2 linked regions of the Homo sapiens genome follow. The protein of the gene in region 1 purifies or fractionates together with the protein of each later gene. This does not show direct contact. Each region holds a gene or a part of one and is shown in the gene's direction. Other genes may lie near its edges.

What was found.
Region 2: the proteins of LAYN (region 1) and ADNP purify together in Homo sapiens (affinity purification with western blotting, with the first as the bait; one study listed by BioGRID). This does not show direct contact.

Annotation. Positions count from the first base shown.
Region 1 is NC_000011.10:111,539,448-111,543,706, forward strand, and holds the start of LAYN (layilin isoform 2 precursor), read left to right. Parts: upstream 1-1,272; 5' UTR 1,273-1,396; coding exon 1,397-1,481; intron 1,482-1,886; exon of another isoform or gene 1,887-2,114; coding exon of another isoform or gene 2,115-2,138; intron 2,139-4,259. UniProt on the Homo sapiens protein: Receptor for hyaluronate.
Region 2 is NC_000020.11:50,903,769-50,907,579, reverse strand, and holds part of ADNP (activity-dependent neuroprotector homeobox protein), read left to right. Parts: intron 1-2,730; 5' UTR 2,731-2,814; intron 2,815-3,578; coding exon of another isoform or gene 3,579-3,583; coding exon 3,584-3,691; intron 3,692-3,811.

The DNA of each region.
Region 1 (4,259 bases):
TTTCTAAGAAGAAAGTGTGTTAGATGTGACATTGACGTATTCTAACTGGGACAGAAGGAAGGTCTATAAATGATCTTGCCATAAAGGTCAGGCCTCATCCTGCCACAACCGCTGTTAGCTGTTACGTGCCGCAGCAGAGCTCCCCCATAGTCTCAGCTGATACTGAAATTCATCCCACTCCCCTCTCACCCCCAGCCTGTATTCAGGCTGTTTGTTTAGAATTGCAGTGGCTAGAGGCCTTAGAAGCATCACTGCTTTCTTGGCTGTTTTGAAAAGCAGAAAGAGTACGTAAGAAGCAGCAAGCTGGAACCAAAATCCAGAGGTCGTGGCCCAGATGGGGCTTCTGCTATGCTTCACAGCAGCATGGTGTGGCAGAAAAGGCAGAAAGTCAGATTCACCTTCTGCTACTTAGTGCCTTAATCTTTGGACAGATGGCTCACTCTATTGCTTGACTATATTTAAAAGCATTTTGTTTACGAAACCAAAGTGAAACACACCTACTTTGGGAGTTTACAAGAGGAAGCACACATTGAGGGCTAGGTTAGGAAAGCTTTTCCTGAGATAATAGTTTCATTCTTTCCTGCGGGGCGAGGGGCCAAAGCTGAACTCCCTAACTATGACCCCCACCTCCCAACCTGTTCCCTGCAAAAAACAGAATCATTTCCTTCCAGGGATCTGGGACATCTTTTGGCTTCTGGTAGAAGCCGCTTTCCTTTCAGTCGGGAGGGCTCCAACTCAGCCAAGTTCTTTGGATGCCATCCGCGCGGTGTCCCATAACTTTCCTGGCCGGTGGGCACACTGCCTGCGTGAGTGTTTGTTCTCTGCATCGACCATTCCCTGCTCAGGCGTCGCCCTTCGTGCTGGGACTGCGGCCTGCTGAGCCCCAGGTAGGAGTCCACGCATCGCCTCTCTCTCCAGGTGCACCCGCACAGCTGGCGAACTTGGCTAAGGTCAGCGGGAGAGGAGGGGTGAGATGTGGTGCTAGTTTTAGGCACACTGTGCTCGTTATCAGATTGCCTAGGGGCCCGACTGAAGTATTCCTCCGCCCAGCGCCTCGGGCAAACGCGGGATCTCCCAGGGAAGCTCGGAGGGGGACAGGGAGCTGGTTCCCCTCTGCGACTCGCCCCTCTCTGGCTGGCCGAGTGTCTGGCGCCAACCTCGCTGGAGGAGGCTGTCGGGGGCGGGCCAGCCAGCGGGGCTGCCCTCCTCGCAGTGACGTCCCAGGGGGCGGAGGGGCGACCGACTGACTCCGCGCCCTCCCCCCCGCCTCCCGTGCGGTCCGTCGGTGGCCTAGAGATGCTGCTGCCGCGGTTGCAGTTGTCGCGCACGCCTCTGCCCGCCAGCCCGCTCCACCGCCGTAGCGCCCGAGTGTCGGGGGGCGCACCCGAGTCGGGCCATGAGGCCGGGAACCGCGCTACAGGCCGTGCTGCTGGCCGTGCTGCTGGTGGGGCTGCGGGCCGCGACGGGTCGCCTGCTGAGTGGTGAGTGCGCGCGCTGGGGCGGGGGCTGGTGCCGGGGTGGGCTCACTGCACCCCAGCTGCTGCTGACCCTCTTCTGGGTCGCCACGTATGGGACTAGAAGGCCGTCCCATGCCCCACTCCCAGACGCAGCCCTTCGGAGTCTCTTGCGTTCTGGGGGCAGTCGCACGGCGTCTGAGACCCACGCCAGTTCCCGGAGCTGCGCAGTTCCCTGCGCGTCCTGGAACGCTCGAAGCCCGTTCCCAGTCCAGAGTTATGGGGGTGGGTTGGAGAATGTAGGAGAGGTGGGGCAGTGGGCAAACCTGCCCCAGTGGGTGCCCCTTCGGCCCGCTCCTTTACACGCATCGAATCAGTCCTTGGGACCACCCCCGCGGGGCAGGCTTGCCAGCTGGCCCCCGCCTACCGCCCGCTCCGGGAGGCGGCCGCAGAGACAGCGGGGTAGGGATGCTGGATCCCCGGTGCCGTGGGAACCCTGCCTGTTACTCCTCGTCTCTTCTGCGGGGTTGGATGGCTGGGTCGAGCGCCCGGTATGAGAGCGCTTAGAGATCGGGAAAGAACTCCAGTTAGTGTGGGACGAGCCCCACCTGACTCCGGGGAATGACTCTCTGCTTCCTTCCTCCTGTTGTGTCACTGCAGCCTCGGATTTGGACCTCAGAGGAGGTAAAGTGCTCTGGCTTCTGGCTTCTTTCAGTTGTTCTGCATGTCGGGGGGAGAACATCCGTGCCCTTTTCTCAGATCCTTTTTGCGGGTGCCAACAGCTTGACCAAACGGGACAGAGGAGACTGGGAACCTCCTCTACTCTGGCATCCTGGCTTGCGAAACTAATTTAAAGAATGTAAAGTTGGTTTCAGGATGGGGGCGGGGCGGCAAAAGAGGTGGGAAGCTGAATTGAGCTGCTTGGGTTAGGGCTGCGTGGGCTCTGTCCTTGGTCGCGGGGAACAGAAGGCCCTCCCACCCTTCGCCTTCCTGCAAATGAGAAGAGAAGGACACTTCCTGAAGGCAGGAGAACCAGATAGGCCCGCGGGCCTCCTTCCAGCTCTGACGGTCTCTGGCACTCACCCGCAGACTTCGGATGTGTGGCCAGGCTGGACCATACAGGAAACTCGCTTAAGGTGTTATGTTTCCCTTGACAATCCAACATGGAAAGTGGGGGTTGTCAGGAAATTCAACTCCAGCTTATGTTATGCCGGTGGCCAGGTTGGATAAGTTCCTGGGGGCTCATTTGCCCCTCCTCTGCTGCCCAATTTGGAGCCAGCTTTGAGGAATCGCAAAAGCGTGGCTGGCCCAGCCCCCTTCCCGGGGGTATCCCTGCCTCAGCCTCTCTGAATACCTTCTTGCAAGCAGGTCTGGCTTTTGAACCCTCCTAATGTGCTGCTGGACCAGTCTAATTAGAGTTTCTCTATTATCAGCAATAGCCAAATAATGACAGGAAAAGGGAGAAGATGTGGAACTCTTATAACTTGTTGCTCATTGAGAATTCCTTTATGAAAGTGATGAGAGAAGAAATAGAAAATGAAGACTCACTGGAGCTTTCTGGATAATCTGTATGTGCTCTTTCTCATTTAGCACTAATCATATAGTTCTATCTGTCTGTGGCCCCTTGCCCTATATGCTGGCCAGTGTTGGGAATTAATGAATGCTATCTGGCTCCCTGCGCAGCTGTAAAACAAGTTGGGAAAACAAGAACATTCCAGAAGTTCTGGGAGGAGGTTCCCAAACCAAAATATTTTACCCCCGGCACTGTGGCAGCAGTTCGCACCCACAGCCCACAATTTGGCTTTCTCTTTGCAGGGGGACTACTCCCCGTGTTGATACGTGGTTTTCACTTTGAACATTTGAATCCGGAAACATATGCTGTGTGCTCCTGTGGGTTAGGAAGTAGCTTTTGTTCCTGTATTCCCAGCACCTCGCACAGTGCCAGGCACAAAGTGTACACTCAATAAATGTTGATTGAATGAAAGGAGTGATGAGGCTAGTGTCTCCATTGCAGCAAGGCTTCAGTCACACAGACGCAAGCTAGAGCAGTGTGTACTGTGAGCGATTTGTTATTGGCTCCTCAGTAAAATCCCATCTGTTTGTCTGAGATGATCTTCAGCCCTTCAGGGGACAGACTGATAAGACACATTACATAGGCTCCCAGTAAAACATGAGCCTGGGGTGCAGCGGGGAGCTAGCAATTTAGTTCACTGGTACCAGCATGATTTTGTAATTAGATCTGGGCTCTAACTCCGGTGATGCTGATGATCACTGTGTGATCTTGGCCAAATTACTTAACTTCCCTGAGCTCCAGTTTTCTCATTTGTAAAATAAGCCATAAACAGTATCTGCATCAGGGGACTATTATGAGGGTTACATGAGATAAAGTATGTAAGTAAATGTTAAGCCCTTACCATAGTTTATGGCACATAGTAGGAGTTCAGTAAACCTTAACTGTTGTCTTTAGGTCAGAGGGCTGACTGTCAGTAGCAGAAAACCCCGTGGATCTGATGCTTTTAGCTTCTGCTTACACCAGAGACTGGGCAAATTCTCAGTCCTGCTGCACAGGCAGAGGGTTCCAGAATAGAGGAGCCCATGCCTGACTTCAGGAAGCCTCTCTTACCTTAAAGAACCACCAGAGACACCCCCTTTAAGCCACATTATCCCCTGAGACTCCCTAATGAAAGTGTTATTTGTGTGCCTTTCAGTGAAACCATAAATCTTCATCTACTTCTCTTCTAAAGGACAGTCAAAATAAAACATTTGCTTTTTAAGATTCTGTAATGGAACAAACAAAACATGATG
Region 2 (3,811 bases), on another chromosome or scaffold:
AACATACATTCCTGGCCAGGCATGGTGGTGCACGCCTGTAATCCCAGCACTTTGGGAGGCTGAGGCAGGTGGATCACCTGAGGTCAGGAGTTTGAGACCAGCCTGGCCAACATGGTGAAGCCCTGTCTCTATTAAAAATACAAAAATTAGCACGATGTGGTGGTACGCGCCTGTAGTCCCAGCTACTCAGGAGGTTGAGGAAGGAGAATTGCTTGAGCCTGGGAGGCAGAGGTTGCAGTGAGCCAAGATTTGTGCCATTGCACTCCAGCCTGGGCAACAAGAGCAAAACTCCGTCTCAAAAAAAAAAAATGCCGGGCGCGGTGGCTGTAATCCCAGCACTTTGGGAGGCTGAGATGGGCGGATCACAAGATGGGCGGATCACGAGGTCAGATCAAGACCATCCTGGCTAAACGGTGAAACCCCATCTCTACTAAAAATACAAAAAATTAGCTGGGCATGGTGGTGGCGCCTGTAGTCCCAGCTACTCAGGAGGCTGAGGCAGGAGTATGGTGTGAACCTGGGAGGCGGAGCTTGCAGTGAGCCAAGATCGTGACACTGCACTCCAGCCTGGGTGACAGAGCGAGACTGTCTCAAAAAAAAAAACAAAAAAAAAAAACTGGAACCCTGTCTCAAAAAAAAAATACAGATTTCTCCTAGTTGCCAAGCCTACAGCAAGATAACATTTTTTGGTACAGCATTTCCCAGTAAGCAGTGTCACTGCTTTATTTATAAGCCTTTTAAATTCAAAATAGATAAGTAAACCCAACACCAACTCTGTGGCTGAAATACCGCTTTTTATAAATTACAAGTTTCTTACAACTAAGTTCCCTTATGGGCATACTCACTTTTTCAGAAAAAAATACCTACCAGGCAGTGAGATGCTTCATCTTAATGTCTTAAACCGACTTTTTAAGCTGTGGGTAGGCACTTAGAAGAATGGGTTTTTCTTTCCCCCAAGCTGCCGCTTGATTCTTTTTTATGTTTTCTATAGACTAATGACCCCAGTGGTGGCTGCATTTCCAAATCTTTATGTCTTTGTTTTTCTGAGATTGTTGAGCCACTCATCCAGGAGGCAGGGAAACCATTAATGGCTGGCTTCTGGACACATCTGTTATGAAGTGTGAAGCAGAGTTAACTCAGGAAGTTCCCAAAGAACTGAATTTTGGCCCATAGAGAGTTTATGAAATGAACAGAGAAACAAGATGTCTCTTCCCAGTCTTAGGTATCTGTGGGCATCCATTTTAATACCTGGTTTCTTCAGAATTAGCCTGTGACACTTTTCTGTATTTCTGAAATATTTTTCTAACATGTGCTTCTCTCTAAAAGACCTGGTTTGTAGTAACTGTATGTGTTTTTTGTTTGTCTGTTTTTGAGATGGAATCTCGCTCTCGCCATGCTGGAGTGCAGTGGTGCGATCTTGGCTCACTGCAACCTCTGCCTCCCGGGTTCAAGCGATTCTCCTGCCTCAGCCTCCCGAGTAGCTGGGATTACAGGCACGTGCCACTACGTCCAGCTAATTTTTTGTATTTTTAGTAGAGTCGGGTTTTCACCATGTTGGCCAGGTTGGTCTCGATCTCTTGACCTCGTGATCTGCCCTCCTCGGCCTCCTAAAGTGTTGGGATTACAGGCGTGAGGCACCATGCCCAGTGTGTACTAACTGTTTTAAATTAAGCAAGTGATAAAGAATTTGCTGGTTTTAAGCCACCACAAAAGATGGTTTAAAACAATTTAGCAATAAAATTTGGACAAAAAATAATTGATTTGGTCTTAATTTATATCAGAAGTGACTTCTAAGTCTGTAGTTGGCTTCACAATATGCAGATTATTAGCATAGCAGAGAGAGCAGGGGACACCATAGTCATTGCTTCATAGTGAGCAGCAATTCTATCTTGAGTATGATAAGGCCTAGAAGGTTTTTTTGAAATACTTTTCATTTTCGGCCCCAATTAGACTTTGGTACTTCATATAGAATATTTTGAGACTTCTAAGTTAGAGTAACGTACCCAGTTTCAAAATTTCTAGGGGTTACTCTTTGATTTTGGTAGATTTCACTCTTTCTCCTTTTATTTTCCATTTTTTTATAGTTAACGTTGATTTTGGATTAGAATAATAAATGAGGCAGCATTTTATTACATTTGGATTAGTTGACTTGCCATTTACAGATGATATTGGTATTACAGAGTAACAGCCTTTGTTAATTAGAAAACTGGATTTGCATATATTAAATTTTAATTCCTGGTGCTTTGTCTTTTGTTTTTGCTGTTTTGGGTTTTAGAACTACTTTATATCCTGCGAAATTGTGTTAGATTTGGATTATTAAATTGATAAATTTTTACCATATTATGGGAAGCATTTCTGATCTCATTAGAAACCATACATATTCTCAGCTGCCCAGGTTTTACTGATTTTATTTTCTCATTAAAGACAAACTTCTGTTTTAAGGAACTTGGGAAAGTTGATATGAATTTCTAATTTAATGTATTAGGTCATTAAAATAATTTTTGAGTTCCCTTAGACACATACAGGCTTTTCATTTTTTTCAAAAGTACCCTCCTTAAAGTCTGTAACAGTTAACATTTTTGAGTACCTTTGCCCAGGTACGTTGCAGGCAGGGGTGGAGTGGGGGCATGCATTGGTCGAGTCACATATCATTACTGTATTTAGTTTGGGGAGTATACAGAAACTTAAGGTTTTTTTGTTTTTGTTTTTGTTTTTGTTTTTGTTTTAAAGAATACCGTAGCAGTAGGCAGGACAGTTCCAATTCAACAAAAACCTCTTTACCCTGGCACTCAAAACTGTAATGATGATGAACTGGTAAGCATTTTTCTGTTTTCAGATGTTCAACATCAAAATGAGAAAAGCACTAACACTTGATTTAAAAATAATTGATTGCTAGTATTTCTCTAATTTTCATCTTGAAGTTCATTACTGAACTGTTGTTAAGTCTTATCAGAATTATGCCAGATTAGACTCATAGTCAAAATGTCCTGTTAAAAACTGGGAAAATCAGAGAGTACTTATTTTGCCTGCCTGCTTTAAGTATTCAAAATATAGTAGATATGTGCTCGGCTCAGTGGCTCACGCCTATAATCCCAGCACTTTGGGGTGCCAAGGCAGGAGGATGGCTTGAGTCCAGGAGTTTGTGAGCAGCCTTGGCAACATAGTGAGACCTAGTCTCTACAAAAAAATTTTAAAAATTAGTTGGGCATAGTGGCGCACTCCTGGAGTCCCTTCCTCTTGAGAAGCTGAGGTGAGAGGATCACTTGAGCCCAGAAGGTTGAGGCTATGGTGAATCGTGAGTGCACTGCAGTCAATGAACCATGAGTGCACTGCACTCCAGCCTGCGCGACAGAGTAAGACTCTGTCTTAAGAAAAGGAAGGAAGGATGGATGGATGGATATATCAAGCCATATGCACATGAAAGCAGGTGTGTGTCTGTGTGTGTACACACTAGATGAGGATATCTATGCACCTTTTTTGTCAGATGGGTAGGTTTTATGATCCTATCATCAGTGGAATTAGTAAATATTACAAGTTGTACGTGTTTTGACTTTGACTTAAATTTTTTTTTCCAATAGAAACTATGTTCCAACTTCCTGTCAACAATCTTGGCAGTTTAAGAAAAGCCCGGAAAACTGTGAAAAAAATACTTAGTGACATTGGGTTGGAATACTGTAAAGAACATATAGAAGTAAGTAGCATGTCATTTTTAAATTTTAACATGACTCAGCTTCTGATCCATTACTTTGTGTCAGTGGCCAAGATGGCTAAATCTTAGATGTGATTCTGAATTTCAGCCACAGCAGTAGCT